Regions from separate parts of the Homo sapiens genome. Here all the other regions are reported to be linked to region 3. Evidence: microRNA targets listed by miRTarBase, many of them from high-throughput screens and not tested one by one. Region 3 holds a microRNA gene; each other region holds the end of a gene's coding sequence.

Evidence for each region. The annotated mature microRNA hsa-miR-4659a-3p reads UUUCUUCUUAGACAUGGCAACG and lies in region 3 at 2,163-2,184, shown strand. An mRNA with a match to its seed (bases 2 to 7 or 8) in the 3' UTR can be bound and repressed. Matches are read on the target gene's strand: a 7mer-m8 pairs with bases 2 to 8, a 7mer-A1 pairs with bases 2 to 7 and ends in A, and an 8mer does both.
Region 1: miRTarBase lists YOD1 as a target of hsa-miR-4659a-3p. Seed matches in the 3' UTR shown: 8mer at 1,030-1,037 and 8mer at 1,137-1,144.
Region 2: miRTarBase lists SH3TC2 as a target of hsa-miR-4659a-3p. Seed matches in the 3' UTR shown: 7mer-m8 at 4,356-4,362, 7mer-m8 at 4,353-4,359 and 8mer at 292-299.
Region 4: the mRNA of MAFG is a reported target of hsa-miR-4659a-3p. Seed matches in the 3' UTR shown: 7mer-A1 at 3,984-3,990 and 7mer-A1 at 2,366-2,372.
Region 5: miRTarBase lists METTL15 as a target of hsa-miR-4659a-3p. Seed matches in the 3' UTR shown: 7mer-A1 at 2,778-2,784.
Region 6: the mRNA of TMCO1 is a reported target of hsa-miR-4659a-3p. Seed matches in the 3' UTR shown: 8mer at 4,069-4,076.

The regions. Positions count from the first base shown.
Region 1 is chr1:207,044,727-207,049,726 of GRCh38, reverse strand. It overlaps YOD1 (YOD1 deubiquitinase), which reads left to right. Exons shown (of 2, transcript NM_018566.4): 2 at 4-5,000. The coding sequence ends at 707. It also overlaps a transcript of PFKFB2 not described here. Among named protein-coding and RNA genes, the nearest start is that of YOD1, 4.0 kb to the left of the region's middle.
Region 2 is chr5:149,000,229-149,005,656 of GRCh38, forward strand. It overlaps SH3TC2 (SH3 domain and tetratricopeptide repeats 2), which reads right to left. Exons shown (of 17, transcript NM_024577.4): 17 at 1-4,674. The coding sequence ends at 4,483. Among named protein-coding and RNA genes, the nearest start is that of MIR584, 59 kb to the right of the region's middle.
Region 3 is chr8:6,743,050-6,748,477 of GRCh38, forward strand. It overlaps MIR4659A (microRNA 4659a), which reads left to right and starts at 2,115; the gene lies at 2,115-2,195. It overlaps AGPAT5 (1-acylglycerol-3-phosphate O-acyltransferase 5), which reads left to right. Exons shown (of 8, transcript NM_018361.5): 6 at 4,621-4,779. MIR4659B (microRNA 4659b) reads right to left here and starts at 2,191; the gene lies at 2,119-2,191. RefSeq lists enhancers at 1,406-1,685, 1,716-1,795, 3,408-3,457, 4,059-4,353, 5,276-5,425 and a silencer at 3,218-3,267.
Region 4 is chr17:81,917,749-81,923,176 of GRCh38, forward strand. It overlaps MAFG (MAF bZIP transcription factor G), which reads right to left. Exons shown (of 3, transcript NM_002359.4): 2 at 5,402-5,428; 3 at 522-5,309. The coding sequence ends at 4,857. SIRT7 (sirtuin 7) reads right to left here and starts at 428. Exons shown (of 10, transcript NM_016538.3): 1 at 291-428; 2 at 82-219. The coding sequence starts at 383. It overlaps MAFG-AS1 (MAFG antisense RNA 1), which reads left to right and starts at 5,151. Exons shown (of 3, transcript NR_186500.1): 1 at 5,151-5,428. RefSeq lists enhancers at 1-509, 628-677, 5,161-5,428 and a silencer at 28-497.
Region 5 is chr11:28,330,368-28,335,738 of GRCh38, reverse strand. It overlaps METTL15 (methyltransferase 15, mitochondrial 12S rRNA N4-cytidine), which reads right to left. Exons shown (of 7, transcript NM_001113528.2): 7 at 2,232-5,343. The coding sequence ends at 4,898. Among named protein-coding and RNA genes, the nearest start is that of MIR8068, 140 kb to the left of the region's middle.
Region 6 is chr1:165,723,584-165,729,007 of GRCh38, forward strand. It overlaps TMCO1 (transmembrane and coiled-coil domains 1), which reads right to left. Exons shown (of 7, transcript NM_019026.6): 7 at 3,212-4,538. The coding sequence ends at 4,440. Among named protein-coding and RNA genes, the nearest start is that of ALDH9A1, 28 kb to the left of the region's middle.

The sequences.
Region 1 (5,000 bases), not on the chromosome of region 3:
CAGGTGACATGCTGATCATTGAAGAAGACCAAACCAGGCCCAGAAGTTCACCTGCATTTACTAAACGTGGTGCTTCTAGTTACGTCAGGGAAACTTTGCCTGTGCTTACCAGAACCGTGGTCCCAGCAGACAACTCTTGCCTCTTTACTAGTGTGTACTATGTCGTCGAAGGAGGAGTCTTGAATCCAGCTTGTGCCCCTGAGATGAGACGCCTCATAGCACAAATTGTAGCAAGCGATCCAGACTTCTATAGTGAGGCAATACTGGGAAAAACAAATCAAGAGTACTGTGACTGGATCAAAAGGGATGACACTTGGGGAGGAGCAATAGAGATATCGATTTTGTCCAAGTTTTACCAATGTGAAATATGTGTAGTGGATACACAGACAGTAAGAATTGATCGTTTTGGGGAAGATGCAGGATATACCAAAAGGGTTCTGCTTATTTATGATGGCATCCACTATGATCCACTTCAGCGTAACTTCCCTGATCCAGATACACCTCCTCTGACCATTTTCTCCTCTAATGATGATATTGTTCTTGTACAAGCACTGGAATTAGCAGATGAAGCTAGAAGAAGGAGACAGTTTACTGATGTCAACCGCTTCACCCTGAGATGCATGGTATGTCAGAAAGGATTAACTGGACAAGCAGAAGCAAGGGAACATGCCAAGGAGACAGGCCATACCAACTTTGGAGAAGTGTGACCTATGCATGAATGAGGGTTGAAGCCTACTACCTCACACATCCAGAAGGCTCTGGGTTTTCCAATAAGCTATGGTAACCCTAAAGAACAAAGGATACAATGCTTGAACCATCCTTTTAACTTAAAACCACTAAGACACTGAAATTCCTTGTTAAGATTAAAATTAGTGTGCAAGTTTACAGATGTGTGTCTACAGTGGTAAACTGTACATACATGCCTCTTTCTGCTGGAGTGACAGAATAGGTGATCCTTGCCACCTACTGACACTGACCTGAAGGTTGAGATTGAGTATTATAAACTAGCACCCAGCAGCTTTAACTTGTAGAAGAAAGCATCACATTTTGGGTAATGTGGAAGGCCTCCTGTGAGTCCACTGGGCATACGATTGAGATTGAGTATTATAAACTAGCACCCAGCAGCTTTAACTTGTAGAAGAAAGCATCACATTTTGGGTAATGTGGAAGGCCTCCTGTGAGTCCACTGGACATTTACCACAGTGTCTCCAGTAACTGAGTCTTTTTAAAAACTCTGAATGAGTTAAGTTTCTAAATTATGAATTGATTCATCAAATGAAGATACTCAGAATTGTCCAAACTGATTTTATATTGCAATTTGGTAGACATTATAAATGTGTGCTTAACCACTGATAAGTACATCACAAGCAATTTTTACAGGGATGAGTCTCATCCTTGAGAATGTTATCACAAAACAGGAACTGATTGTGCCCTGTTTAAGATCTCTAGCATATAAAACGTAGAATGTATGAGGGAATAGGTGCCTGAGCAGCTTCCTGAAGCTTTAAAAGACCGTTGGCCTCGTGTTTTAATGCAATTCATGTATTGGTCTTTGTCACATTGGATAACATTTTAAAGTTAAGCAGGGTACTTTTTTAATTGAAATTCCTTGAAATTCGAGTCCTCAGTTTTTTCTTCATTTGCGTAAAGTTTATCGGGGGGAATTTAATTTTCTCAGCTTTTTGTTAAGAGCACTTCCTCCAAAAAATTTTTTTCAAGTAATAATGCTCTGCTTTGGGTTGGTTTTTGTAAGATTTTTTGCACACCTAAAGAGTGTTTGCTTTTGTGCTAGCCTTATCCCTCCACTAAAGTTATTTTAAATAATTTCACATTTCTGCAAATTAGCACTTTGCTTATCTGCAATCTTTTACTTTGATTTTTGAAGTTTTAAAGCAATTGGAGTAATACTGTTGAATGAACTAGTTTCACTTCCAAAATAGAAAAAATTGTAAATCCTTGCCTTATGCAGCTTTCTCAGAATTCTGCTTCTTCCTAGTACTAGATGTGTAGCCATTTGCTTAGTGGACTAATCCGCAAGGCACACCCTCTAAAACTTAGCTTCACTACAAGATCTTCCAGATAAAAGTTTTCTACCTCTTTTCTTAATTATTCTGATCAGGGATGCTAAATTATAATTTGTTATGTATTATCTCACATAATGTGAAGAGGCTTAATGTGAAGTTTTGTTATTTTGGTCTCTTTTTTATTAAGTATCTCACTTAGAAATTCAGTGGTATACTTTAAAGCACTTGGATCTTTTTCAGCATATCTGCCTAGCAAATGTTTTAAAATTGACATTTATTTTTAGCACTTTCACTTGGTGAAGGTGGCCATATAAAATTAAGGAACATTTGAACAATATAAGAGAAAAGAACTTTTAAGGAACAATTCACAAAGTTTGTTTGAAATTGTCAGATGACATTTCTTGAGTACCTTTTGTGTGCATAGTTATTTTAGACAATATAAGCTGTTATGGTCAGCATAACTTAAAAGTGTTTAGTTTTCTATTTTACTGAGCCTTAAAAATAGCACTGATGAGCTTATGATACTTAATGTTTGGCAATCATAATGTGTTCAAATTAATGGGATTGAAAATCTCTCCACACCTGACTCTCATCTGATCTGGATGGTTTTGGTTTTGTATCTTTTTTACTTCTCCCAGAAAATACTAAATTTAAAACTGTAAATTAAGAATATACCACTAGATAACAATTATCAAATTGAGCTTTATGCATCATTACTCAGAAAGCTTGCCTTCCTTTCTTTGCTACTTCAGGACACAGAGTTGACATTTGCTTACTACAGCTTTAGATCTAGAAGTTTATTCGTGCAACAAATATTTATTGAGTAATTTATACTGTGCCAGGCATGTTTTGATATGTTTCTGTCATATGTTTTGATATGTTCCAACATAAGTTTCTGTCACTTTATATTCAGTATATATTTTCTACAGTGGGTAAATTTAACAAATGGAAAGGAATAGAACACTGATATTTTACAGAATTAAACCCCTTCATTGTAAGGGCTTTGTTTACATATTAAGTGTCAAGTATTTATTCAGGGGATCTTATTTCATTGTATTTTATCTGTTATCTAGGTTGTCCATTTACCGGTTGGACACTGATACTCTGTCAAATTCCTTTCAAAAATGACTCTTTAGTCTGCTGAAATTTAGCACTAGTACTTTAGTGTTCTGATCCTGGAAAATTCAAGGTGAAGCTTTATTTGTGGACCATCTGATTTAATTATTGAGGATTAAAAACCTAAACCTTTGCTCATTCTAAACTCAAGCTTTTAAGCCTCACAGAATTTACAGGGGTTTGCTTTTTGTTTGTTTGTTTTTTCATTTTTTACTGTGCTTATTAAACTCTTGGAATTAGTTATTAAAGGGAGTAAATTCTCATCTTGGGAATTTTGAAAATCTATGGACTTACAACTTTCAGGAGGATTAAATGTCTTAAGTTTTGTACTAGAGCAGAATGAAATCTTTCCTATTCATTGAGTTTTTGCCTGCCATAGAGGAATTTTTTTAAAAATTAAAATGACAGTTTATATTAGTGGCAAAGTGAATAAAGACCTCACTTTCCCACCCCACCCTTCTTCCTTTCTCTTACTTTTCTTTGGATTAAAGGTCAGGTGTAGTACTATGAAGATTCACTCCTGAATAAAGTGATTTCAGAAGCTAAAATTTAACATACCTGGAAATTTTGTGATGTGTTAGCCAAGTGAAGACATTAGTGTGTTCCATCTTTTGCTAATGGTTCATGGTTGATTTCTTCATTGTTTCCCATGAAATTAGCATAGTCAAGTGGTACCCTTGACGCTTGACTGCTGGTCAGTTTGACCCTGTTTTTAACAACTAATGTAGTCATGCCGCTTGATTATTCCATGAAGTCCCAGCAAAATAATAATGAGGAATTAACTAACATTATGTTATCTATCTAATTTGTCTGTGTCCCTAAATGCCCATGCCTAACTTGCTTCTCTAGTTTATTCCTTCTGTGGAGGGATTAAAACGTGGGTGTTGCAAGTTGCCCTAAGCTAAACATAGTTTTCTTACATCTTTTTGGGAAAAAAAATGGAATGGGAAGTATGCAAGATTAAGCAAGAGTGATTTTTTTTTTTTTTTGACAAATCAGGTGGCCTTCCTAAACATACTAAGAATTATGTTCTTTCATGTGTGGAGACACATTTGTTTGCAGCACTTTAAAAAATATATATGGAATAAAAGTTTACATGTTGGCCCTCTAGGGATCTAATTAAGGACATTAAAGTACAATTCTTGAGCTACTAACCATCAGCTCTTCTTAATCAAAGATTGCCATCAGTGTAGAGTGTATCTATTGGCACAACATTCTGGTGTTTTGATAACAGTAGAACTCAATTTCAGTAACTATTAGGAGCATGGTCTGTGCCCTAGCATTAAAAATGTTACTTATTATTATGTGAATATCTTGTATTATTATACAATGCAGTATTCAAATTTGTCCTTGTAGTGCAGAGATGACTGATAATTTCTAAAAGATTCGATCCTTAAAACTTGTTTCCAAGCAGACTTATAAGGAAGCTGATTTTTGAGTCAGAGGCCTTAAACGTGTCATATACAAGTGGCATCATTTTAAGTCCAAAGTGAAACACTTGATTTGAATAAGCTAGTTTATAAACTAAAGCTGTTTTCTTATGTTACAGTATTTCAGCACATTTCATTCCACATAAAAAGAATATTAAGTGTCCCTGGTTGTGGGAGAGTGTTTATTTTTCTCAAAATTATCTAGCATTTTGCTTACAGTGCTTTGAATGTTTGACTTAAAATTATTATTGATGTTGAATTGTAGGGTGCTGATTTAGGTCTTGATTCATACACATTTAAAGGAGGTTGGTAACCCCCTCATGGTAGAGTGAAGGGAGAAAAGGGCCAAGAAGACAAAGTACCACTGATAAAGAAGAGATTGTCAAATAGATGCATTCCTAGTCATGAATTACCCTTTTCCAAACATTTT
Region 2 (5,428 bases), not on the chromosome of region 3:
GTGTGCCCAAACCTGGCATTGAATGACACTGACCCTCCTCAGAAGGAGCTCAGTCCTCTTCCCTGCTTACTCCATTTCTCTGAGTGTGCAAGGAAAAAGTGGTTGTTGCTAGTCTGTCATCTACACTCTCTGCCACTTATTAATCTCTCTGTTTTCAAACAATGCCAGATAAGGCCTAGGCTGGGTGCTTGCAATGAGCAACAGGACCTAGCTTGAAGTTAATGCATTATTTTATTTTCATTGTATTTGCCATTATTTACATAATTCTGTTTATGGAAAACAATACAAGTTTTTCTTCTATATAGACTAGTCATCCCTTATAAAAATAAGTTAATATGAGTAAAAGAAGTAAATCAATTTAGAAAATGTTTTGTAAAGGCTCTTTGGTGCATATCGTGATAAATGCATGCATACATACACACACGTGTACATATACACACACAACTGTGAAGGAAGCCCTGAACAGCAGAAATCCTGTCATTTGTGCAACTAAGTCCTTGAGTCATGAGACCCCCGCCTCAAGTACCACTGTCTTTGCCACTAACTACCAATGTGTCTGGGAGAAAGTTACCCTTCTGTTCCTCAGTTTACTCACCTGTAAAAAGAAGATAATATAATTGAGCTATAAAAATATATTATTTCATCTCTCCAATACTATTTCTCATCCTATTCATACAGTATAAAAATAGCACTGCTGAAAAACCCAGAGGTGAGGTTCTTTTATCAGAGGACAAATATCTGAGATGTGTAGAGGTTAAGTGACTTGCCCAAGGTCGCACTGCAATTTAATATCAAAATCAAGACCAAAATACAGGTTCCCTTTAGTGATAGGCTTCCTGATCCCTCATCCTAACACCCTCCATTCCTGCATATTCCCTTCCCCAAATAAACTTCTGCCAAATGAGGTGCATTATATTTACAAAGAGGAAGAAAATGAACACACACACACACACATACATATATATACACATGCACAATATAAAGGCATCTTAAAATAATGGAAAAGCAAATAAGAAAAGGACAAAAGCAATATTGGATTTCAGAATGTTAATACTGTTGGACAGGGAACTAGTATACCTGAAAGCTGAGAAAACATGTTACAGGGTTTTCCACAATGTTGCAATGCCCTTCTTGTTCTTTATTTAGATTAGATGTAAGGAGCCAGCAGTCACACAGCCCATATAAGATTTGAGGGAACAATTAGAATAAAGAGGGTAACTAGATCATGTTTGGCTATGATACACTTATTTTTTTAAATGTTTAAGTAGAGACCAAATCCAATCACCACTTTACTCTCTGTGGATCATGAAAAAAAGACAGCATCAACATGTTTCCAAAGGGAATAGCTGGCCCACATTTCAAAAATGAAAATTTTAAACACTTTTTAAAAGAGTTTTAGCAAGCGGTTTACATATAGAATGTAGTAATTGCAATTATATAGCACAATGTTTTTCTTATTTTAAAAAAATAGTCTTACCCTTGTCTTTGGAAACATGCTAAACATTTTTATAACTGACCTGGTTATGGGTAAATTCATCAGATTTATAGGTAAATCAAAGTGCACAGAATTGGGAAATTTTAGCTAAAATTTCCAAGGAGATGTAACATGGATAGAAACAACGCTCTTCACGTATGTGTGTGTATGTGTATGCATATGCAAATGCATGTGCATATTTGCAGCAATTGAGAAAGATCTGTCCAAACAGAAGTTCAAGTCAGAAGACACAGAAGTTTCAACTGATTATAAAGCTCAATGGAAGCCAAGGACAGATGTGGCTGCTGGGGAGAGGAAGAATCAAATTAAGTATAGTAACATCCCTCTGTACTCTTCACCCACCGGCCAATATCAAAAGCCTCATGCAGTTGTGGGAACTGCTCTTTCAGAGAAACAGAAACAAATCTGGCCAGAGGAGAGTGAGTGGTCAGTGGGAAAAGGGAGGGGATCTGTAACCTGAGTCAGATGGGGAATGGCCAGTGGCATGGTTTCCAGGGCTGTGTGAGCCTTCTTCAAATACACGATATGTAACTGTTCTGGAATGTGTGTGCCCCTGACTGTCTCCCAGGAATGTTGTTGAAAGGACTATGCACGGGAGATTAGACTGAATAGCCTCAACCGCAACGTCCCTCCCAGCTTGGGGCTTTTACAGCTTGTGGTGGGGGCAAAACCACATCTATTCTCCATGGTAGTAGATTAGATAACTTTACTAATTAGACAACTGGAAGCTTCTCCTTCCTGGAGAATACTCTCTAGAGTAGACAGCCTTTTGACAACCAACCACATCTCTAAGAGAAAATGTGTGCCAATTAGTAGACAACCTTGATGACTAGAAGATGCAATGGCGGCTCAACTCACCACTCCCATCTCACCCTTTCATACAACCAATCATCTGGTCAGCCCAAGAAGCTAGAAATTAAGGGCAGATGGTCTGATAATAAAAGCTAAGCTGATGGGCATCAGATGCAGGGAATTATGGCTGGTATCCTTGTGGTTCACAGAAAAGGAGCAAGGGTGAACCACCTGCATCAGGCTTGCTTGAGTTGCTTTCTAAAAATGCATGTTCCTGGGATACATCCCAGATCTACTGAATCAGAATTATTAGAGATAGAAACCAAGAAGTTCATGTTCCACAACCTCACCAGGTAATAGTTATGCACACTATCTGAGGGCTCTTGCCCTGCAGTGGTGCTTCCCATACTTTAGGGTGCATTAAAATCACCAGGAAAGCTTGGACGAGTCAGCGTTCTGGGATCCAGAGATTCTGATTCAGAGATCATAGGTGGGGCCACAGATTTTCATTTCAAACAATCTCACAGGTGATGCTGATGCTGCTGGTTAGTGGACCATATTTTCAGTTTGCTGAAATTAGAGAATTCCCAATTTCATTATCAAAGAACTCAGATACTGTGGTAGGTCACTTCTGAAATGATCCCCAATGATTCCTCACCATCTGGTATTCAAGCTGTTGGTAAACACTCCCCTCTTGTGGGAGCTAGACCTAGTGACTCATTTATTATGAATTGAATAGGCAAGACTAAGGAGATGTCACTTCTGTGATCAGGTTATAGAAAGAGTCACTCCCTTTTCTCCTGCTCACTCTGGTTCTTGCTCCTCTTGTTTGCTCCCTCTAGTGAAGCATGGTGCCATGTTGTGACTGCCCTGTGGAGAGGCCCACGTGGCAAGTGGCTGCAGGAAGCCTCTGGCCAACAGCTAGCAAAAAACTGACTCCTAACAACAGCTGTGTGGGTGAGCTTGGAAGCCCATCCTTCTCTAGTTGAAGTTGAGATAACTGCAGCCCCAGCTGATTGCAGCCTGTGAACCACCCTAAGCTGGTGGGCTCAGCTAAGTCATGCTTGGATTCCTGCCCTTCAGAAACCATGAGATTATAAGTGTTTTAGGCCACTCAGTGTGCTATGCAGTGATGTTATTAATAGAGATGCTTTGTAAAGCAGCTGCCCTGAAATCAATAAGATGCCTTGTAGTTGGGTATGGCACATGCCTGTAGTTCCAGCTACTCAGGAGGTTGACACTGGAGGATCACTTGAGCCCCGGAGTCTGAGGTCGCAGGAAGCCCTGACTGTACCACTGAACTCCAGCCTGGGCAACAGAGGAGAAACTGTCTCAAAAAAAAAAAAAAAAAAAAAAGACATGTATTGGTATTCTCTCCCATCCATCAAGTCCTCCATCTCATCTGCCCCCATTGTGGATGAGACAAAATGTGTGTGTAAATGTAACTGGACAATATTTAATCATATACACTATTTACATGTAATTTATGTCATAATTTTCTTAACATTCAATTTCCAAGCCTTTGCTCTTGGAAAGCTTCCCTGGAGCTTCTGGGAGGTTATGTGGGAGCACAGCCTTATGGCAGGAGGAAGATGGTGAATCCAAGTCAGGTTTCGTGCAATCCATCTGGCCATTCTGAGGCTGTGTCTTTTGAGCTAAGATCCTGGTGAATTCTCTCCTGTCAATCCCTGTGAGCATGAGGAGTGATACATACTTTGGTTCTGAAGAAAGAAATGGAAAAAACTACAGGTTCCTCTGCTGGCAAGGGGAAGGGGTCTTTCCCTGAGAAAATCGGTGAAGAGCACAAATTCCAATCTGCTTGCCTTTGCACCAGTGCAGTGACTGATTTCCTCATTGGGGGAGGAAGGAAGGCTCCTGGAGGGCAAGATCCCTCATCTTCTCCAGAATTATGTATGGAGAAAGTGCTTTTCAGAGGCTGTTTGTGTGGAAGGCAACAGTCAACCGGTAAAGGCTCCAGATGCAAAGCCTGGAACCAGGAATTCTCATCGCTGCACCATCAAATCTTTCTGTGGCCTGCAATGAGCCCTTCTCCTCCTGGACTTCATTCTTCTTCTTGTGAAATGAGGGGGCTAGGCCAGGTAAGGACTCGGACCCTCCCAATGAGTATTTAAGAGCCTAGGGCAGTGGGGTCAGAGTCTGGCCATGCCAAATGTCCAGAGACAGGACAGCTTTCCTCAGAGGGCCAGGCCACCACCACTCAGCCACCGCGCCCTCTCTGAGGAGCACCCGGAGGGCCTGCTGTGCCACAGGGGGCTCTGGCAGATGTTGTCCAGCCTGCTCCTAATGGTGTCCTGAAGCTCCTCATCACCCAGCAGGACCGCTGCTGCCAGGGCCAGAAGGAAGTACTCAGTGGCATCATGGGCATCCTAACCCCGTGGTATGGGGGCAAAGAAGAGACAGCATTAGCAAACACTTCCAGGACAGGCTAGGAGGCTGTGCTGGCCACTCTAGTTTTTTTTGTTTGTTTGTTTGTTTGTTTGTTTGCCCAACATCCAATCCCCATCTCCTGAGTCCTTAGGGAGCCCCTCTCTCCCTCCACTGTGGTCCTTGGGACATTGCTAATCACAGTGCCCTGCACTCCAGGCACAGAGGTGGTCCCTTACTGAGGCTCAGCCAATCATGAAACATCATTGCCCTGGGCACAGTGCTTCAGGGATGTGTACATGACCCAAACTTGGCCTACATCTGCCACTCCCTGGGACTTTCCACTGTGTCTCAATAAGGAAAATAGTCCCTCTGAAGTGGCAGGTTCAGAGGTGGACTTGAACCTGCCAGTAGCTAGAAGGGGAAAAGGCCAAGAAACAAAGCAAAGTAGAAACATACAGAGTCAAGGAATACAATGAGAGGTGGGGAAATCCCTGATGATGATTGAGAAACAGGATCCAGAGCTATCTGCAGTTAAATTTGTAGCTCAGCCTTCACATTCTTTGAGCCAGTAAGTTGCCTTTTTTGCTTAAGGAAGTTTGAACTGAGTTTTTCCCTTTACAATCCGTGGAGTTCTTGGTTGACATGATCAGATCACACACTTTGTCCCTGAACCACTTACTGGGAGCTATGGGGCAGAGGCAAGATGGCTAGAGGGTGCTTCACTACCCCCGGCCCTCCCTACATGGTAAAGAT
Region 3 (5,428 bases):
CTGCCCTCAATTTGTTTTGGTCTGATTTGAAATTCTCTCCCTAGACTTCTGTGGGGCTGTTCTCCATTATCCTCCCAACTCTCTGGCGATTACTTCCTAGCCTCCTTTCCAGCCTCTTTCTGCTTCATTTCTCCCTGCTACATGTGTTATTTCCAGTGTCAGGTTTTGGTGTTTGATTAATTTCACTTTTTGTTTCTCATGGTGGCCTTCCTCTAAATCCATGGCTTTAGCCATCGTTTCCTTGACTGCTGATGACTCGCAAAAGCTTCCTCCCCTCCATGTCTCTCTGCCTAACTCTGGACCCATTTGTACAATTGTCCATTAGAGAGCTTCGCTTGACTGGCCCAAAAGGATGTCTCAAACTCAGCATATTGAAGATAGAATTTATCCTTCCATGCATACACTCATATTTCTTGTCTTGGTAACTCCATCATTCAGTTTTTTTGCCTAAGTTTTATTCACAAAAAGAACAAATTGATAGCAGTTGCATACCTCTTATAGGAAACTTAGACATGGAGGAAGAAGCTGTTCAGATGGGGTCCTGCAGAAGTGCAGGCACTGTGGTAATATTTAAACTTTTCTCAGCTGTTCGAAGGGTTTTGTTTTAACTAATTTTCCTTAGACTTGTTTTAGGTATTTGGCTTTCTAATGGTTATAAGGGATGTGGAATTAAATGTATCTTAATCTGCCACCTGGACCCATTAAAGTAAGCCCCTATGGTGGTTTTTTTTTTTTAATTGCCATGGTTAAAACCATAGTTGCTAGCGAAGGTGACATACTTAAGCTTTTTGAACTCTCTTAAAAGAAAACAGAAATTTAATGATGTGTCTATAATGGCAAACCAGATACCTAGAATTTCCATGTTATTCATAGGGTGAATAACACTGGCGATTGTAGAGATTTGAGAGTTCTTTCAAAACAGGAGAACAAAGGGAATAAGCTACAAAGCAATTTTTTTCTTTGTAGACTTAACTGAATAAAAATTATTTTTATGTCTCAAACATCATATGAACAAATTTAGTTGGCAAATGGCAAGCTAATAATATTTTATAATATAGGATATTAATATACTTAATATTACAAAAGTGCTTCATAATTAGAAAAGACATAAACTAGAAAAATGGGAAAAGGGCATGAATAAGAAATTCAAGAGATACAAATGACCCACACACTTGAACAAATGTTTATTCTTTCTCATAATCAAAGAAGTAGAAATTAAATGAATACTTTGAAGCCAACTTCTGAGAAAGCATAGCAAACAAGAAAGCTAGTGCTCAGCTTTGTGTGGTAACGGCACTCTCGCTCTTAAGAAGGTGTGTTTGCTCCCTGTGGCTGCTCTCAGGCAGGGCCACAAACTTGGTGGCTTAAAACACCACAGATTTCTTCTCTTACATTTGAGAAGTCTGAAATGGGTCTTACTCAGCTGAAATCAAGGTGTTGGCAGGGCTGCAGTCCTTTGTGGAGGCTTGGGGGGATCTTGTTCTCCTGTACGGGGTCCTGTGCTTGGTTCGGGGTCCTGTGCTTGGTCTGGGATCCTGTGCTTGGTTCGAGGTCCTGTGCTGGGTCCAGTGCTCTGCTTTTACCACCTTGAAGTTCATCTGGAAATGGCACTGGCTCGCCCACACCATATAGCTGACTCTGGTTCTCCCTCCTCCTCACTCGCTCTAAACCTGTGTTTTTGGCTGATTTCTAATCTCTCTTTCCTTGGCCCTTCTGCAGCTTGCAGGGCCTTCTGCAGCTCTTGTCTGCCCCAGCCCCGGGGTCTGCCCATCCCAGTGCTGGGCTGTTCTGTTCCTGCCCTGCCTTTCCTCAGCCCTTGGCAACCCTGTTTGTTTTCTCCCTTCCTTAGCAGTGGAGAACATCGTAAGATCAATGCTGACTGCCTTCTGCAGCCAAGCCAGGCCATTTCATTTCAGCCGAGCCAAGTCTGTGTGGAGCAGTTCTTTTATTTTTCTCCTTTTGACTACCTCATGGTTTTCACGGATTTTTGTTCTCTTCACATTCAAGGATTTTTTGCTTTCAGAAAGTTATATTTCTCTGGAAAGAGTGCACCCAATATCCCTTTTGATTTCAAAATCTTAATGTGGAGTCTCTTGACTTGGATTTCTTTGGAAGAAACTGCTGAAGCTGCCATGTCTAAGAAGAAAACTTTGGAGAAAAATTTTCTTCTTAGACATGGCAACGTCAACAGTTTCTAAGCTCTTGATTCCGTCTACCCTGTCTCCATCGTTGCCTCAGTCATCTGCCTTACTTCTCTGCAGGGGTTTCTCCCAGCTTGCAAATGTACTCCAATTCTGAAATAACTAAGTCTATAGCTGTGCAAAGAGAAGTCTGGGCCCCTTGCTTTCTTGTGTTTGACTCCATCCACTCTCCAGAAATGAATCCCACTTCTCACTTAACCACTGACCTCCAAAGCATCGTATCATTTGTGTCAGTTGTCATATTTGTTAACTTTCACATAACTTTTGACATTATTTATACCTTTATAACCAGGAAATAATTTTAACTTTATTGTAGAAATAAACAATGGAGTATAATTTTTCTTGTTGAAGATAAATATCACCTCCTCTTCCTTTAAACATCTCTTCCCTTTGTTTTTGTATTACATTGGTTTCCCCCCTTTTTTTATTTCCTGGGTTGTCGTATTCCCTGTTATTATTTTTACCTTTTTTTTTTTAATGTGGATGTTTCCGGAGTCTGTATTTCTTGCCTTTTCATCTTCTGCCCTTTATTATTCTCAGCCACTGCCATTACTTCAGTTATCCATTCCCATGGTTTCCACATGCTTAGCTTCGGTTGATTCTTGCCATTTTACAGACCATATTTCCAACTACTTCTAGAATGTTTTGTTCCTTCAGCCTCAGTATGCCCAATTTGAACTCATGTTCTCTCTCCCCCTTCTTTCTTCCTTCTTTCTTTCGCTCTCTCTCCCTTCCTTCTTTTCTTTCCCTCCCTCCCTTTCTTCCTTCCCTCACTCGTTCTCTCTTGCTTGCTTGCTTTCTCTCCTCTCTCTCTTTTCTTTCTGCATTCTTCTCCCTCCCTCTCTTCCTTCTCTCCCCCACTCCCCAACTTCCAGGCTAAAGCAGTCCTCCTGAGTAGTTAGGACTACAGACATACACGTGCCACCGCGCCCGGCTCCGTGTTCTCTTTGTTTCCCTGCCTCCTGCTCTTCCACTTATCTTTGCATGGCAGGTGGGTGCACGCAGGCATGCTCTGCATGTCTTCCTCTTGGCCATTCCCCTTCTAGTTATGGTGTGGCTTTATCTACGCGTTCTGGAGCAGAAGCCTAGTCACAAAGCTATTTTTTTAAAACATTCATGATAATTCATTTCCTTTTATGTTTTAAAAATACTAGCTTTCTGTCTTTATTTCCTTACTAACTTACTTGGATGCCAGTAATTAGTTGTTTTAGTGAACACCACAGAGTGATATTTTGAAACTTTGGACTTCATAAAGTTGGATGAGCTCCAGTAGCAAAGAAGGAAGTGTTAACTAGTTTAACTGACAAATAAATGCTTCCCAGCTTGGTGTGCGATTGAGATTTTTGTTGCAAGTTTGTGAATCAATTTAACTGCCCCTGCCCTGGGGACTAAAGTCAGATACGTGCTTGTGGGAATCTTTGTCTTTCCCACACCACCCTGCATTTTAAAACCTCTTGTGTGGGACAGTCCCACCATGTAATAGCTGTTCTTCCTTACTCAGCTACTTTCCCTCCAGAGAGGCCAGTAGAAAATCTAGACTAGTTTTTTATAGTCTATTTTCATGTCACTTATTGAGAGCTACTGTTTTCTGTTAAATTGTCAGTAAATATTTTAATCAAGGAAAAGGGAGGTAATAGGAAGGAGAGAAGAACAAATCCTTAACCCTAGTAGGAACCTAATGAATGGGATTTGTTCTGGATAATTGCAGTAGTCCCCCAGCTAAAGAACCTTTTAAAAATATGTCAGATATACCCAAGAGGATTGAAATCGTATGTTCATACAAAAGCTTGTTCACCTGCAGCCTTCATATGCAATTCCTATGAATGTTCATAGCAGCATTATTCATAATAGCCAAAGTATGGATGCAACCCAAATGTCCATGAAGCAATTAATAGGTAAACAAAATGTGATCTGTTCACACAGTGGAATACTAACTATTCAGCCATAAAAAGGAATGAAGCACTGAGTCCTGCAGCCACACAGATGAACCTCAGATCCATGCTGAGCGAAAGAAGCCAGAAACAGGAGGCCATGTGCTGTGTGACTGTATTTCTAGGAAATCTTGAGTCACCATGGGCAAGATGCTATCACCTTTGTTCAGTGGCCAGAAGCGAGGGCACTAATATTTACCCTTGCCGGGGTCTACTAGATTGAAGCGTTTCCGCTAGGCCATAAACTTCCAACACGGTGACTTGTACATGTAGATATTTGATCAATATATAGCAAATGAATATTGATTTAAACAGAAAAAGGCAAGTGAGAGTGCTTTCTAAACTTAGAGCCCTAAATATATGAGGTTGTGGAATTAATAGATTCTGTTGTGTGTGTTTGAGGGAATTTAAAAATAATTTAGATGTTAAACAGTATATTGTGGAGGTGTTTTGTAACTAATTAATGACGGCACTGAATTGACTTCTAGGCCTTGCAGTATTAAAACATGTGCTAACACCACGAATAAAGGCAACTCACGTTGCTTTTGATTGCATGAAGAATTATTTAGATGCAATTTATGATGTTACGGTGGTTTATGAAGGGAAAGACGATGGAGGGCAGCGAAGAGAGTCACCGACCATGACGGGTAAGTGTGTTCACGCACCTGAAATGCCTGTACACGGTATATACAGTGCACATGTTTATGTAGAATTCAGTTTTACAAAGTAGGTTAAGTGTACTTTTTTCCTTCATTACATTTACCCGGTATATTTTTCAAGATGTTATTAAGATGTAACAGTGGAGATTTCATTAGTCCTGCAAAGTGTGGTATTTCTTGGCTGTCGTGTGAGTCCTGTGGACTCACCAATTATCATTAATCCAGCCTCTTTCTACTCAAAGTTCACACTTAAAAGGAAAGCTCTGTAAAAGGGAGGAAGACGTGAAGAAGGAGCACGCCCGGCAGTACTGAGTGCACGTTATTAGTCAGTGCTGCCCTTTTGCTGTATTTTTCGTAAAATATTTATTAAATTTGGGTGTCATTGTGACAAGAAGAAATGCAGTTAAGTGTGACCTTTTTTTTTCCCCAAACATGTTAGGTTTTAAGAACCTTTGAGCTATTGTCAGATATAACCAGAAAAAAATAGAATTTTAAGTGAGCAGGATAACTTAGTTAAACTAACCAAACATAGTGTTAGCTGTTAGAGAAATGTAAACATGGAAATAGGCAAACAGGGAAGTGTGTGGAGTTTCTGTTTCCTTTTCAAAATATCTGTTTGAGCTGGGGTTGAGAGAGA
Region 4 (5,428 bases), not on the chromosome of region 3:
CGGGCCGCCCCACCCGGGACCGCCCGTCGCCCCAGCTGCTCCCGAAACCGGGGGCGCCCGCGCGCCGCACGCGGAACTCGCCTCCTCCTGCCGCCGCTTCAGGCCCTCGCGCCGCCGGCTCCGGCCCTGCAGCTCCGTTACCAGGTCCGCGCTCTCGGCCAGCAGCCGGCCCTCCTCGGCGCTGCGCTCCGCCGCCGCCTTCCTCAGGATGCGCGACACCTGCGGGCAGGCGGACGGTGAGCGGCGGCGCGGGCCGGGCATGGCCGGGCCGGGGAGCGGCGGCGGCGTACCTGGCGGAGGCGCTCCCTCTGCTGCTCCTCCCGCAACCTCCGGACCCGCTCCGCCGCTTTGCGCTCGGAGCGGCTCAGACCCCCGGCTGCCATCGCTCCCCTGGAGACCTGCTCTTCCGCTTCCGCCTCACACGGCAGGCCGCGCTCAGGGCGCATGCGCAAGATGGGCCCCGCCCCCACCCACCCCTTCCGGCTCCGCCCGCCGCGTCGCCCCAAAGAAGCACCTGCCAGTCTCTTTAAAAGGTTTATTGATCATATACAAAATAAAGAAAACCTTATATATCACAAACATACACTATGTACAGCAATAAATACCCGGGGGGCCAGGCCCAGTGCTGCCCCTCCTGGACAATAATTTAGCAATAAATACTGCGCAGGGCAGGGGTAGGGCACCAAGGCCACTGCCCTGCAAGAGGTCAGGCCCCTGCCCGCCCTACACGAAGTGTGAGCGCTCGGGCCTCACCCCGCATCCAAACCCCAGCCCCTCCTCACTTAGATCTTTAATAACCTCCATCCCACCCCAGCAGATCCCGGGGTCTTCTCCCACACACACAACCTCCCCTGGCTAGACCTAGGCAGGGCAGGCAGGGACTGATCAACTCTGCTTGGACCCACCTCTCAGCGCCAGGAGAGCAACAGGGCTGGACACGCGGGCAGCCCTTGTCCTGTTGCCAGGAGAAGGCTTTCTGTGCCCACTCCCGTTTGGTTAAAGGCTTCAGGGACTAGCAGATTGAGGGGGTGGGAAGAAGGGCAGGGCTGGGACACAAGGTTGCTGGAGGGGCCAAAGCCCAACTGGGGTCACCAAGAACAGGGAGGTCTCACAGTTTATCGGGGACACACTCTAGCTCAGACTCAAGGGACACCCATGGTATCAAAGCTGCTGCTCCAGGGGCAGGGTGGAAATGTGTGGGACTGGCCCAGCAGGTATGGTACACACCCAGGACACAGGCCAGAGGCAGGACAGGCATTAGTCTCTCAGACACGCCCTGCCTCTGTGTGGCACTGATTATGTACTCTACTCTCCCGACCTGCTCCAAGGCCAGACAGCCAACAGGAAGGCAAAAATACACCAAAAAGAATTATTCAGTGGCTTCTGGGGGAAAAATCGTTAATGTGTTGGTTCCTTTCACCAAACCACAGCCTAAAAAAGTAACTCACAAGATCCCAGAGCGGAAACGGTGCAGCAGGCTGCGGCTCCGACTTTCCAGATGTGGATGGGCGCTTTGGCCAAGTGGCCACTCCAGAGGGAGGCAGCAGGGACAACATGGGACCTGACCATCGTCCCAAAGCAGGCTGCAGCCGCTCAGGGCCGTGGGCCGGGCCCTGATCACCAGTCAGAAGTGTACACACATATCTGAAACATGCACCAAGAGCTGAGCCAGCAACACCAGTGCCACCCCGAGCAGCAGCCAGGGGCCTCACTCTCCTGGTGAGAGCTGACCTGTCCCTGCTGGGTATTCCTCTGAAATCTGAGCGTCCATGTTAGGATAAAAGAGGAGTTGGGGCAAAGTTAAGGTGGAAGGGAAGACATATATCATGGTTTACTTGGCGGACAAGTTTGAGAGACCTGGCCTTGGCCAAAGCCCTCGATTCGCTGTGTCAGAAAAACTGAGGTGAGAAGAGACCACCACCCTCTCCACCACCCTCTCAGTAGGAAAGCGGGATCAACAGAGATCAGAAGGACAGCACACTCACACCTGCACATGAACACACCATCTATGTCAGGAAATCCAGGGGAAGGGGAAGAGGGGTGGAGTGGCTCCGCAGGGCTGACCTGACAGGGGACAGGAACACTCCCCTAGACCCAGGGAAGTCGCCCCAAATCCAAAGCTCTTGAAAGGAGGTATGGCCTCGAAACTCCAGAAGCCTCTTCTGCCAACGCACCGAGGACCTGCACCTCCCATTCAGCACGCGTCGACCCTTACACCCTCCTCTTCCACACTCCCTTCGCCTCCAGGTCTGCAGCCTGGCAGAGGTGCTCAAAATGGATGGCCACCCACAGCCAGGACAAAAGTGGGGGCTGCACAAGGACAAGGAGGGCCTGTTTCTCCCCACTCCGAGGCAGATCATGACGTTTTCTTCATGGATACTTATGATATGATTCCAACTAACGCCTGGATTCTACTTAGACAAGATCAGACTGAGGGGAGGGGGATGAAGTCACTAAATGACAAGAGTCAACAGCCAATATTTCCATTTTCAGGCTGACGCAGGTAGACACAGGACTTGTCTCTGAACACCTCGAGCAAAGAAAAGCTCATTAACATGACAAGTGTTGATGGTGCCTCCCTGTTCCCATCCTGTGGGCACACCAGGCCAAACTATTGGATAAAAATCCCACCATCCATAGGGTTAAGCCCTGTTGGGCCACAGTTTTTCATCTTACCCACATCTGTGTGCTTTACAGAAGTCTGGGCCCCACAGAAAAGAAACCAGCAACCCGGTGAAAGGCCAGGGCTCACATGGCCAGACACAGGGCTGTAGCCTCTTGGAGGTGGGTAGGGGCACCCCCTCCCCATCATATGCCTACAAGGAGCCTCCTGAGCCCAGCCAGGAAGGGCAGCAGCCTCTGGCGAGGAACTGAGAGCAGGAGGCAGGCTGCGCCCCCACAGGGAGGCACCTCCAGCAGAAGCCAAGCAGCTGATCCCTGGAAGACACAGATCCCAAAGGGAGGCAGAAGGCAGGCCCGAAGCCAAGAGCTGCCAGCGTGGACCAGCGGAGAAGAGGGACAAGACCCGGCCCTGGAGACTGTAGCCCTTGTCTGCACTGGTGGAGACCCCCAAGGCTCTCAGAGTGAGGCAGGGACAAGGAAGAAAGGGCGGTGCCCGGTGGGCCCCCACCCACTCTGCCTGGAAGCACCACCCGCAGCATGGAAACACCTCAGGGATCAAGCGGGCGGCGAGACCTGCAGCCCACGGCGCGGGCAGCCTATAGGAACAAAGCTGAGGCCAGAGGAAGACGGCCAGGGAACGCTTGGCCATAGCCCTGTGGCCACCCACAGTGACTCCCTCATCCCTGTAATGCCACCACCCAAGGCCAGAGGTGGTGGGTGTGGAAGCAGCGTGGGGCGCCCCAAGGGACCCCAGTTTCACCTACCCCGCCACTAGATCAGCCCAAGCCCTAGACACAGATGTAGCCAAGGCTCAGTGGAGGGGGGCATGACAGAACCCCATGTCTCACCTCCTACGGACCAGGAGCTGGTGGTGGGCACAGATTCCTTGAGCTCTGACGCAGCAGGCGCCACTTGGCACCCCAGCCCAGGTCCAGCAAGCCAGCAGAAGCAAAAGCACAACTAAACCCAAAAAACGAACACGGGAAAACAGACACAAGAAGTGACACCCACAGGTCAAAGGTCACCAGAAGCACCAGCACTTTACCGCTGCACAAAACCTCACCAGGCACGGACGACACCACGGCACCGGCAAGAGACGGAAGCAGGAAGGGCAGAGGAGTAAGTCACTTTCGGTACAATTGCAAAAGATATCAAAGAGGACGGCCTTCTGGTCGGCTCACGGCTTGGCTTTTTTTTTTTTGTCTTTTTTTTAAACTAAGTTTTATAAATAATGTCTGATAACTCTGTGTATATAAAAACTAAACTCCAACAGCCACAAAGAGGTGTCCGTAAGTTTACAAGAAAGGGATTTTTTTTCTTTTTTTTTCTTTTTTTTTTAACTAGCAAAGTTTCTATTATACTTTCTTCCCTTTTCCATTCATATGGTCAAATGGTCTTCTTGCTTGTTTTTTTTCTAAAAGACAGTTTTATAAATACTCTGCAGCTCTTTTTTCTTTAACTTTTAAACATATAATTAATTTAATAACTTTGTAAAAGGAACTTCTCTCTTTTAAATAAAGGGCTATATAACCACACAAATAGGTCATGTAAACAGTGACACGGGACCCATCGCAGGGCACACTGGACCCACCCTCACGTTAAGCGCACAACCAGAGATTTGGTCTTGTTCAGTGCAACGGGTCAGGCCTGAGTGCACAGCCCCTGGGCCCAGCTGCACGCCCCCAGCACCACTGCGCCCAGGCTGGTGGTCCACCCATCAGGGCCTTCAAGCCCGCCCTACTCTCAGAGCAGAGCCCATCTCTTCATGCTGGGCTAAGCTGAGCTGCTCCCCTGGGGCTAAAGAGAGTGAATCCTTCCCAGCCCGCGAGCCTGTGGCCACTCGGGAGTGGAGGGAACACTGGGACCCTCACTGCTCGGGGACACGCGAGGCCCAGCGTGCCTGCTCCTTCTCTCTCCCGCAACTCTCTCTAGTCCGTTCCCACAGCACCAACTCTGGACTCCAAGCCTGCATGGCCCTGGTACAAAAGGGGTTGGGGCGACCCCACGTCACCGCCGAACTGACCAATCCCAACATACAAAACACACGACGACAATGACGAGATCAAAGGGGCTCAGCCCGGCGCCCCTGGGGTACAGGTTGTGCTTTGCAGGGAAGAGAGAAGGGTGGGGAAGAGAGGGAGGAAAGAGAAGAGAAGGAAACAGAGGGACAGGGCAGCCAAATTCGCCATGTGCCTAGTGGCCCCGCAAAGACCCGCCTGGGCAGACGCGCGTCCCTACGATCGGGCATCCGTCTTGGACTTTACTATTGTGATGACGCTGGTGGCGGCCACCTTGCCTGGGACGAGGGGCCCCAGGCCGGCGGCAAGGGGGCCCCGGGCTGGCGCCACGGGGCTGCGGGCCACCGTCCGGGCGAAGGTCTGCAGCGCCTCGTACTTGGAGCGCAGCGCGTCGAGCTCCAGCTTCATGCTGGCGTTCTCTGAGGCCAGCTTCTCCACCTCCTGCTGCAGCTCCGCCTTCTGCTTCTCCAGCTCCTCCTTCTGCGTCACCCGCTTCACGCGGCAGCTGGCAGCGTAGCCGCGGTTCTTGAGCGTGCGCCGGCGCTGCTTCAGCTGGACGATCTCCTCCTTGGACAGGCCCCGCAGGTGCTGGTTCAGCTCCCGCACCGACATGGTCACCAGCTCCTCATCCGTCAGGCTGGTGCCATTCTCACCCGGCTCCCGCTTCACCTGGGGCACAGTGCAGGTGGTCACAGGCCAAGCGGGCACGCCCACTGTGCCCCCCGACCCCAGCCCACAGGCTCCTGTCCCTGCCCACTCACCTTCAAGGCCTTGTTTCCTTTATTGGG
Region 5 (5,371 bases), not on the chromosome of region 3:
GAGGGAGCAAGAGAGAAGAGGGAGGAACCAGGCTCTTTTTAACAACCAGCTCTCTGGGAATTGATACAGCAAAAACAATTGTTACTATGAGGACAGCATTAAGCCATTCATGAGGGACTCTCTCCCATGACCCGGACATCATTTATTAGGTACCACCTCTAACATTGGAGGTTAAATTTCAACATGAGATTTGGAGGGGTCAAATAAAGCATCTCCAAAATACAGCAGTGCATTATCTCATTTCATTCTTAGAACTTTCAGTTCATAAACATTTATCTTCTATTTGATTCACAGCAACATGAGAAAGTACCAATAATATCCACATCTTAAAATGAAACAAATGAGAATTCAAGAGATTAAATAGGATGTCCAAGTTCATACATTCAGTTATTACATGTAGATCCGGAATTCAAACCCTCGGTTTTCTGAGTCCCCAGCCAATAGCGTTATTCACAATACTATACGGTCTTCTCCTCAACTTAGCACCTATAAGACTTGAATAATAAGACTTTTCCTTGTGAAATTATGAGGAATCCTATCATTTGATGGCTTAATAATACAAATCTTCACCTGTGCAAGGCAGACAAGTGTTATTGCTCAAAGCATAAAGATGGGGTTTAACGAACAGAAATAATTATTCAAGAATCAAGTGGAGCATGTCCTCTTGTTTGATTTCACCTTTGTATTCTAACATTTGAGCAATGATATATTTAATAGGACAACAGCTAATAGTAGAAAACTTGTTCAGTATTTAAAGTAACATTACCAAAGACACAATCTCCTGCTGTGCATATTGAAATATTAAATTTTCTTTACTTTGTTGCCTAATAATTTGGGCAGATTATGAGAAGGAAGTGAGGTGGCCAAAAAGTCAGTGACAAGCATTATAAATTATGACCATTGTATGTTGTACAATTCTTCATTTTAAATGTTTTTAAAATTTTATGCTGCAACTAGACTTTAAAAAAATAATTTATATGTAAACTTTCTCTTAGCATTCCTGCAGATCATCCTGTGTTACCAAACATTAGTTGGATATAGTAGCTATAAACAGATAAGATTTGAGAAAATAATATAAAAATAGCTGTGTTTGTTATACAACCCAGCCTCTTTAGAATATAGGGTTGATTTTTACAAACCATACTTCAATCAACATCAAACATATGGCATTGTGGTTATGAGAAAAATATATCTTTGATCAGAGTTTCAAATTTATATTTATCAAGCACCTCACAAAATTCTCTTTATGTTTAAATGCTTATCCCTGTCTATTATAGAATGCTGCTACACAAAAATATCAATTAGGATACTGAAGCAATTATGAAAACTAAATAGAAAAATAATTGCAGTAAAATAAATTTTACAAAATTTTAACCAGAAGCAATTTTTAATTTAGTTTTTAATCTATTAAAAAGATTCTAATATGTAAGGCTTAGTTTGTCATGGTATGTGCCAAAATTACCTAATATTTCTTTTTCCAGAGATAAATTGAAACATAATTAATGTCACCTCAAATTTACATACCAATGTGAACAGAGAAGAAGGGATGGTATATAAAAAGAGGGAGAGTGGTGAAAAAGGTATTTTTTTATTTCTTCCTAAACAGTTAGCTTCTAATATACGCTTGAGTACATATATACATATATTTTTCTCTTTTTTTAGCCATTAAGTCCCATTAAGAACTGTCTCATACTTTTTGAATGACAGATTTCAAATGAAAGTAAAATTATTTTTTAAAAGTCTGCAGTACAGATTCATTATCTCTACTTCTTAAAAACAAAAATTAGAAACAAAAATTTTAAAAACCTTAGGTATGTAATACTCTGCAAAGACTTAAGAAAATATGATTTTCAAATATTTGCAAGTGAATTTTAAGAAATATTAGTTCATTTAAAAAATCTAATTAGGCATACTGTATTCTCTTATAAACTACTGCTTGTAGCACAACAAATAGTTTACTACAATGAATTTAAGCACAAATAATATATCATATACTACATGAAATAGAAAAGACATATAGATATAGTGTCTTTCAAGAACACCCCTAGAAACTTCAAAGAACATAGTAATTAATATACAATTTTAAAAATAAAATAAAAATAGGGATATTATCTAAAAATTGTAGTTATTAAATTTTATTTAAGTAATGAACTAAAAACTGTTAAGAACTGATGTACTACACAATGACATTGATACTATGTTAAAATGATTCATAGAAGGCAGTCAAGACAGAGATTCAGAAACATTTTATTAGAAAAGTAATGCGCATTCATAGTAACATTAGCTTTTATTTCTGTGTACTGTAGGAACTTCCCAAAACCATTCTCCAAAGCTAACCATTTAAAACTCATTCATGTATTTTATTATGCATCCTACAACAAAGACTAAGAAGCAGGCAAGAATTACTATAAAACACAATCTAATTACAGAAAAGTTAATTTATTTTTACATGAAAACATTTTGAAACCAATTTTGTGTTTATTGAAGGATTTTTCTCATGCATATTATCCAAGATTTTTTTCTGTCAGAGTATTAGCTTCCTAGGATTGCTGTAACAAATTACCATGAACTGGGTACCTTAAAACAGCAGAAATACATTCTCACTGTTCTGGATGCTAGATGTGCAAAACCATGTTAGCAGGGTTGGCAACTACTGGAACTCTGAGGGAGAATCTATTCCATGCTTTTTTCCTATCTTCTGAGGGTTCCCACAATGTATCACTCCAATCTCTGCCTCCAGCTTCATGTGGCATTCTCCCCTGTGTCTCTATCTTCTCTTTCTTCCTTTTTTTTTTTTTTTTTGAGACAGAGTCTCGTTCTGTTGCTCACACTGGAGTGCAGTGGTGTGATCTCGCAACCTCCACCTCCCAGGTTCGAGTGATTCTTGTGCCTCAGACTCCTGGGTAGCTGACATTACAAGCACCACGCATGGCTAATTTTATTTTTAGTAGAGATGGGTTTTCGCCATGTTGGCCAGGCTGGTCTTGAACTCCTCAGCCTCAAGCGATTTGCCTGGCTTGGCCTCCCACAGTGCTGGGATTACAGGCGTGAGCCACCATGCCCGCCCTATCTTCTCTTATAAGGAACACCAGTCATATTGGATTAAGGGCCTGCCCTGCTCCAGTATGACCTCATCTTAGCTACTTACAACCACAACCACAGTATTTCCAAATAAGGTCACATACTGAGGCTCCAGGAAGTACATGAATTTTGGAGAGGACACCATTCAACCCAGTACATTCAGTTTCTATTTAACATAAAAAATAATTCCCATACTATACAGGGTGAAAAAATGACTTATGAAATAGGTGAAAGATTGTTGAATATACAAATGTGATCTTTTCTTTTCCAATCACATACAGAGATAAGAATTTTTTGGGAATATGTCTCATTCACAAATATGTATTATATGCAAAGAGAAATTTATACAATGTTCAAGTAGGATTCAGGGAATTAACCTAGGTGCATTCTCTTGTTTCTATTTCAACCATATTGTTCTCCAGATTTTTTTCCTAATTCTGATTTCCCTGTAGGATTGTTCAGATTTAAATAAAGCCTGTAAAGCAGAAGTAGTGAACAAGCCTGGGTACTAAAGTTAAATATTACAGAGGCAGATAAAATAAGTCTGAGGAAAATTCATGCATTTAATTCTATCTATTTTGCCCACATAGTTATGCTGATATTTCATTCACTTGGATTCACCAACCTAAAATTTGTAACTATAATGGAGAATCTTTTTTCTGTATTTGAAAAAAGTGCACTGAGCAAATTAATAGTATAAATATGATTTCAAGGATAACTAAGAGAATATTTATTTCTATGTATGGTTAATCAACATGCCCCCTTCCATACTCCATGTGCCCTTTGACTAATTATCTCCAACTCATCTTTCAGGTCACAATTTAAGTATAAATAATAAATTAGAAGTACATATTACTATAAAAAATTGACATGTGAATTATGAATCAATCTCCTCAATTTGTTAAAGAATCTTCTACCAAGTACTCTTTTCTTGAATAAACTTTTACCCATATTACAGTTACCATATCTTTGTAACAACATTAAGGGAGCATTGATTTTACTATATTAAATAGACAGTTTTCTATTTCAAATAGACTTGGCTGAATTATTTTGATTAGCTCAATTAAAAAATACAAGATTCTAATAAGAGACTTTATTACTTACTAAAGGCATTGTGAGCTATTATTAAAATAAATACAATTGACATGAAATATAAGTTTTGTGAAACAATTCTCTGTAAGGATTTTACATTTTTACTTTGCGATAGATGAACAAAATGGCCCATATCATACTGAAAAATCCCTTTAAAATAATAGACTATAATTTGAAAGATGAAATTTTATCAGTATAACACACATTTAAACTAATATTTTAAAATTTAAAATTTGTAAAAAGCCTACATTTGAGAAAGCTAATTATTCACAAGTAGGGACATTAAAATTCATTCCATAATCATCATTATTTGAGCCACAGAAAGACTGATGCAAATTGGAATATCTAAATTCAAAATTTAGGACATGCAGATATGATTACAACATCTTTCTCTTTGGTAGCTTGAGTTTACGTATTTAGATAAACACAACACAGTATTATTTTTTAAAAAATTTCCTGGCCAGAGGAAGGATTGCCTTCAAGAGTCCAATATGATGCAAAGATTAACATATTTTTCCAGTCTGGAGGTGCTGCTGCTCCCTGAGTGTAACTTTCTCTGTCATGTATTTCCTACAGTTTCTTTTTGAGAAAAAAGAAATGCTAAATGCTATCAATTTTCAGACTGTCCCACACTTAAACCTATACCAAGACATTCAGGGACATAACATGAGTAAAGATTAGAGAAATTGTGAGAAAAAAATTTGAAGAATAAGATGATGATAACTTATAATTTGATAGCTGCTCTAAGCTTGGCTGAGCGCCCTCTGGGGTTATCTTGTACATCCTGATCTTGTGGACTAAGTACCTTCTTGTGTATCAATTCCCACATTAAAGGAGCTCTTCTCATAGAGACTTCTTCCGTGTTTTCGTGATCTGAACCCAATTGAGATGTTTTCATCACTTGTTGTCTAACACTTAGGTTAAATCTTTCTGTCATGCTTATTCCAAGCAAAAATCTTTTGACGATGCGATCCTCTAGTGAATGGAAGGAGAGGGCAACAAGACGACCACCAGGTCTCAGAAACTTCTGAGCTGTCTTCAGTCCCGTGTAGAGTTCATTGAGCTCATTGTTCACAAATATGCGAAGAGCCTGGAAAGTCTTGGTGGCAATATGGGTAGATCGCTGTAGTAAGTCTTTCCGTGTATAAATAGCAGAGGGAGGAAATGCTCCTAAAACAAATGTTGTAAAGATAGGAAA
Region 6 (5,424 bases), not on the chromosome of region 3:
AGTGTATATTCTTAGCTTGTACTAATGAATAATTATGTAATATTCTAATTATATCAGCCGGCTGCTGCAAATTGGAATTCTTAGTATGGTTTGATAAACGAGACACAGACCAAAGAAATTAAGTAAAAATTCTGTAGCCCTGAGTATCAGTATAACTTCATGTTGTATTTTGTATTAAAACAACAACAAATAATACCAATGTTAGTCCACAGAAAGGCCTAGAAACCTAAAAACCCAGTCTCACCATTCCTAGTGCTCTGATCACAATCTCCAAATGCCATTTTCCAGTAAAGATGAAACAAGCCTCTTTGGAGAAATTGTTGTTTTCAAGTCATGCAGGAAATACACAAGATGAGCCTTAGAACATCTTGTTATATCACTTAGCAAGGATGCTACCAATGACAACGAGGGTCATGCAAATAGACTCAGGAGCCAAATGAAAGAGGCTCTCGCTGGCCAAAAATGGGACAATTTGAGCATTCATAAGAGAAATAGCTTCAGTGGACTGAAGTACATCAAATATGTTTAAATGCATGAATTGCTAATGACATACACATTAATTATTCACTATTGGAGGATGTTAATAAACAGCTCATTATTTTGAAGACCAAGGAGTTAGGCATTTATTCTTAACTTCCCCCAAAAAGTAGATGAGAGGAAGTTCCTATTTAGAGGTATTTTAGATCATAAATGAAGGAATACTACAATTAGAATACCATCACTTTTAATATCTCATTAATTAATAGATCAAAAGCTGCTCGCATTACAGAGACAACCAATAGTATGAAAAAACCAGCATGCTATCACCAAAATCCAAACTAAGAAAAACTCTACAAGGTAAACAACACAACTTCTTCAACAAATATATTGTAAGAGGGCAGAGAGATGCTGATGAACCAATAGGTGAGTGAACCCCAAACCTGCAGCTTCAGCATCACCTGGGAATTTGTTAGAGATGCAAATTCCCAGACTCCACAGCAGACTTACAGATCACCAGCTCTGGGGTGGGGCCCAGCAGTTTGTGTTCTAACAAGGCTCTAGTGATTCTGATACACTCTAGTTTGAGGACCACAACAATTGAAGAAATTTAGGATGTGTATCAGCTAACTGCAATATTCAGTACCTTACTTGGTTCCTGATTCCAAAAAACTGCAAAAATTTTTGACATCTATAGACAACACATTATATTAAGGAATTGTCCATTTTCTTAGGTGTAAAAATGGTATTCAGATTACACATATTTTTTAAAGTCCTGAAATATTTACAGATAAATGATAAGATTTGCTTCAAAATAATACAGAAAGGGCAGAAGCAGGTGGGGTTACAGATGACACAAATTAGCTAGGAGCTGATAATTGTCGAAGGTGGAGGATGGGTTACCTAGGTGTTCTTTATTCTCTCTTTCTCTCTCTCTCTCTCTCTCTCTCTCTCTCTCTCTCTCTATATATATATATATATATATATAAAATAGTGTATATACATAATAGTATATTTTTGAGATTTTTCATTCTAAAATTTTTTAAAAACTCAAACTAGAATAAATTAAAAGACTGACTTAAGCAGAATTAATCTAAAAAAAGAGAAAGTATATAGTACTTTTACTTAAAGGGCAGTATTGAAATACATAAAATAAGTATAAATAGTCTGAAAAAAACCTACTCCATCCTAGTTTGTGGCAAAATGCTTTTGTTTTAGAAGGGGGATCTAGAAGCTCTATCAATTGTCTGATGTAATTTTAAGTAACTGGCCCCATTGGAGAGAATGACTTACCTGGGAAGAGAAAGGCCCAGTCTGGTCAAGGACATATGAATATCTACACACATTTGCTTTCCAATTTCCAAACTAGCTTAGCTTTTAGAATGTAACCTGTTAATAAACTCAGGTTTACTGTCATTTTTAAAAGTTTACTACTTTAGCATATTATGATTGCAACCTGAGTAGACTAATGCAGATATTAGTAATGGCTGTTTTTCTTCCCTAGACAGGAGACAATCCATCTTACATAGGGAAAATAACCAAATTATGTGTTATGAGAGATGTTCAGAGGCCTGTCTTGAAATGTCATCTCCAATGATCTGGTGATGCTGTGGACCTAGAGTGTCATCCAAATAACTAGTCTTGAAATTTCTTCAGGACAAGAAATTTTAAAAAACTAATTGTGAGGCTGCAGTAGCCCTTAATAACTCCTTGAATTTAATTCTTGTGATAGTTTTATTTCCTCTGTAATATATCTTTGTTATTGTGCTTTTAAGAATAGAGTGAATATACATAAGCAGAACATATTTGGAAAAAAATTTAAAAAAATTTTAATGAATAGGGTGAATAGATGTAATCTCTCCTTTTTAACTTCTCCCTCTTATTTATTCCTTACCATGGAAACATAATTTGTATATGAAAACCTGGTCCATAAGAAGTCTGATTAGAAAGCACCAACTTCAAAGCCTCAGGGTATGAGTGATAGAGTGTGCTATATATTCTCACTTTAAAAAGGTGATGGCAGAATTTTGAGGATGGTTTCATGTTTTATTTTAGCCATTTCATATTTGTCATTATTGTTATCATGGGCATCATTTTCTTCATTATCATTCGAATTATTATTTTGCTTAGAGTGGTCAATGATATGGAGAAAAGACCATTAAAAGTCATTACCATCCATTATCAGACATCCTTCTGATAAAACTAGTCTCAGAATAGGGACTTCTGTTCCCTTTCATCTGCTTTTATTGAGCTCCTGCTGTGTTTCCACCCACGTTGACTACTTTGTAATAAGGAGAACAAAAAAAAAGACAAAGTCCAACTTTAGAGAGCTCACACACTCTAGTTGAGGAGATGGGATGAGAAGAGAATCACCACATACCCATGAGGAGGCTGTAATATAGAGCTTGACAGCCTGGACTATTAGGCTTTACACTGGTTGAATTCAAATCCTGACTGCCACTCAATAGCTCTGTGATGCAGAGCAAGTTACTAACCTCCCCTGCCCCAGTTTCCTCATCTGTTAAATGAAGGTAAGAACAGTAATTACCTTGTAGGGCTGTCTTGGGATAATCCTTAAATTAGATAATCCATAAAACACTCAAATTTATCCATATATTCATCCATATATTTTATTTCTCTGTTGACCATTGTTTCTTGTATGCCATACCTTCACCTTGGGCAGATCCTCTTTTTTGTCCTTGGAATATAACCTTTAATAATTCAACTCTCTTAGTTTTGTATGTCTAAACATGTCTTTATTTTGCCTCCAATATTGTACATAAAATTCTAAGTTGATACTTATTTTCCTCAGCACTTTGAAGATACTTTTCTACTGTCTTCTGGACTTTATGGTGCTGATAAGAAAGAAGTTTGCTGTTGGTTTAACAATGATTACCTTGAAAATTATGTGTTTTTTCTCACTGGTAGAATACTCACATTTAAGTAGACATTTGATGAATGTGCATATTTATTGATAAGACTCCACACAGGACTCCTAATTCCATAGATTATGCGGGGAGGATCATGGTACAAACATCCTTCTCCCTTATGAAGGGGCATGGCAGAAAATGAAGGCTATTGTGACTAAAAGGAAGCTCTGCGAGATTAACAACATATAACTATAACCTTGTCTCCAAGGGAGATCTAAGAGTGCCCCCACAAGAATCTGAGAGACTGTAATAGGATATGAAGAGAACAGCTGAGGACCCTCATTTTTATTTATTTATTTATATTTAATTTTTTTTCAGACATCAGTGTTACTTGCCAAGACCCTCATTTTTAAACTCCAACGAGTTATTACGTTCCTTTCCACTCTTGCTTTCCAATTCCTACACCAAGACAACTCTGTATTTTGAGTATATGAGTCAAGTATGGCAAAAAGTACAGTACCTTAAAAACTTTTATTTTAGTCCTTCCTGGCCCATGCTAAAACTTATATCTAGAAATACGGCAAAACAAAATGAAACAGATCTCTCCTTGTACATAAAACAGCTAAAAATTTGGCCTCTTTATTGATCTTATGTCATGTATTTGGCTTGAAAAAAAAACAACAACAAAACAAACAGTTACAAGGGTTAAACAAACTAAATTTTTCTTCTAAATCTCTAAATGCTCATAGACAGCCAACTTGCAGGGCATACACAGTGCCTTGAGAGTCGGTCCCACAGAAAATACTTATGTAAATGAAACAAGAAGGATGCTATTTGTTTTTCATTACATAAACATTACCTGAACTTAACTAATCAATCCACTTATTTGATAAAAATCATCTAGGACCAAAAGCACTATCAAGTTTGCTGGCTGCCATTTTCACTCTAATCATACCCAAAAGGCTTAGAAATAATTCAAAACTAGAAAGAGGCCCAAGTAGTAAGGCTACCTATGGCTCTTGCTACAAAACAGTTGCCAGTCTGATGTGTGTGTGTCTAGAAAGAATGATAGAAAATAAAGAGTTCTTGAGTTCAAGAGAACTTCCCAGAAGGAGGTGGTGGGCCAAGAAATCCACCTGCCTGCTTGGTGGCGGCTCGTGAAGGGGCAAGGCCGAGAATCTTCTGAATGTTCTGTGAAGAAAGCACAGTAAGGATTGGGTTTTAATATCAAATATACAGAAGATGTGTTTTATGTAGCTCTCAGGCAAAGGGAACTCATACTCATATAGATTAAAGGAACCATTATGACCTGCAATAGGATGATTATCACTTTTTTTTTTTTTTGAGATGGAGTCTCGCTCTGTCACCCAGGCTGGAGTGCAGTGGAGCAATCTTGGCTCACTGCAAGCTCTGCCTCCCAGGTTCACGTCATTCTCCTGCCTCAGCCTCCCGAGTAGCTGGGACTACAGGTGCCCGCCACCACACCCGGCTAATTTTCTGTATATTTAGTAGAGACAGGGTTTCATCATGTTAGCCAGGATGGTCTCGATCTCCTGACCTCATGATCTGCCCACCTCGGCCTCCCAAAGTGCTGGGATTACAGGAGGGAGTCACCGCACCTGGCAATCACTATGTTATTTTTTAAAAAGGCCTACAATGTAATGAAAATCATAGAACAGTAAAAGCCTTCCTTACCTGATGAGACCTTGGTCTACTAATGAAAGTGGTTGATTTTTTTCGAGTAGAGAATCATAAAAGGAGATAATTTTTTTAACAAGAAGCATATGAAGAATATTCATTAGCTATTTCTTATGGGCATTTTCTTTGAGTACGGGTCTGCTGGCTGGATTTGTCATTACTGCACTGTCTATAATTTTCAGTTTCGGCCGGGTGTGGTGGCTCACGCCTGTAATCCCAGCACTTTGGGAGGCTGAGGTGGGTAGATCACTTGAGGCTAGGAGTTCAAGACGAGCTTGGACAACATGGTAAAACCCCATCTCTACTTTTTAGTAGAAAAATACAAAAATTAGCTGGGCATTGTGGCATACACCTGTAGTCCTAGCTACTCGGGAGGGTG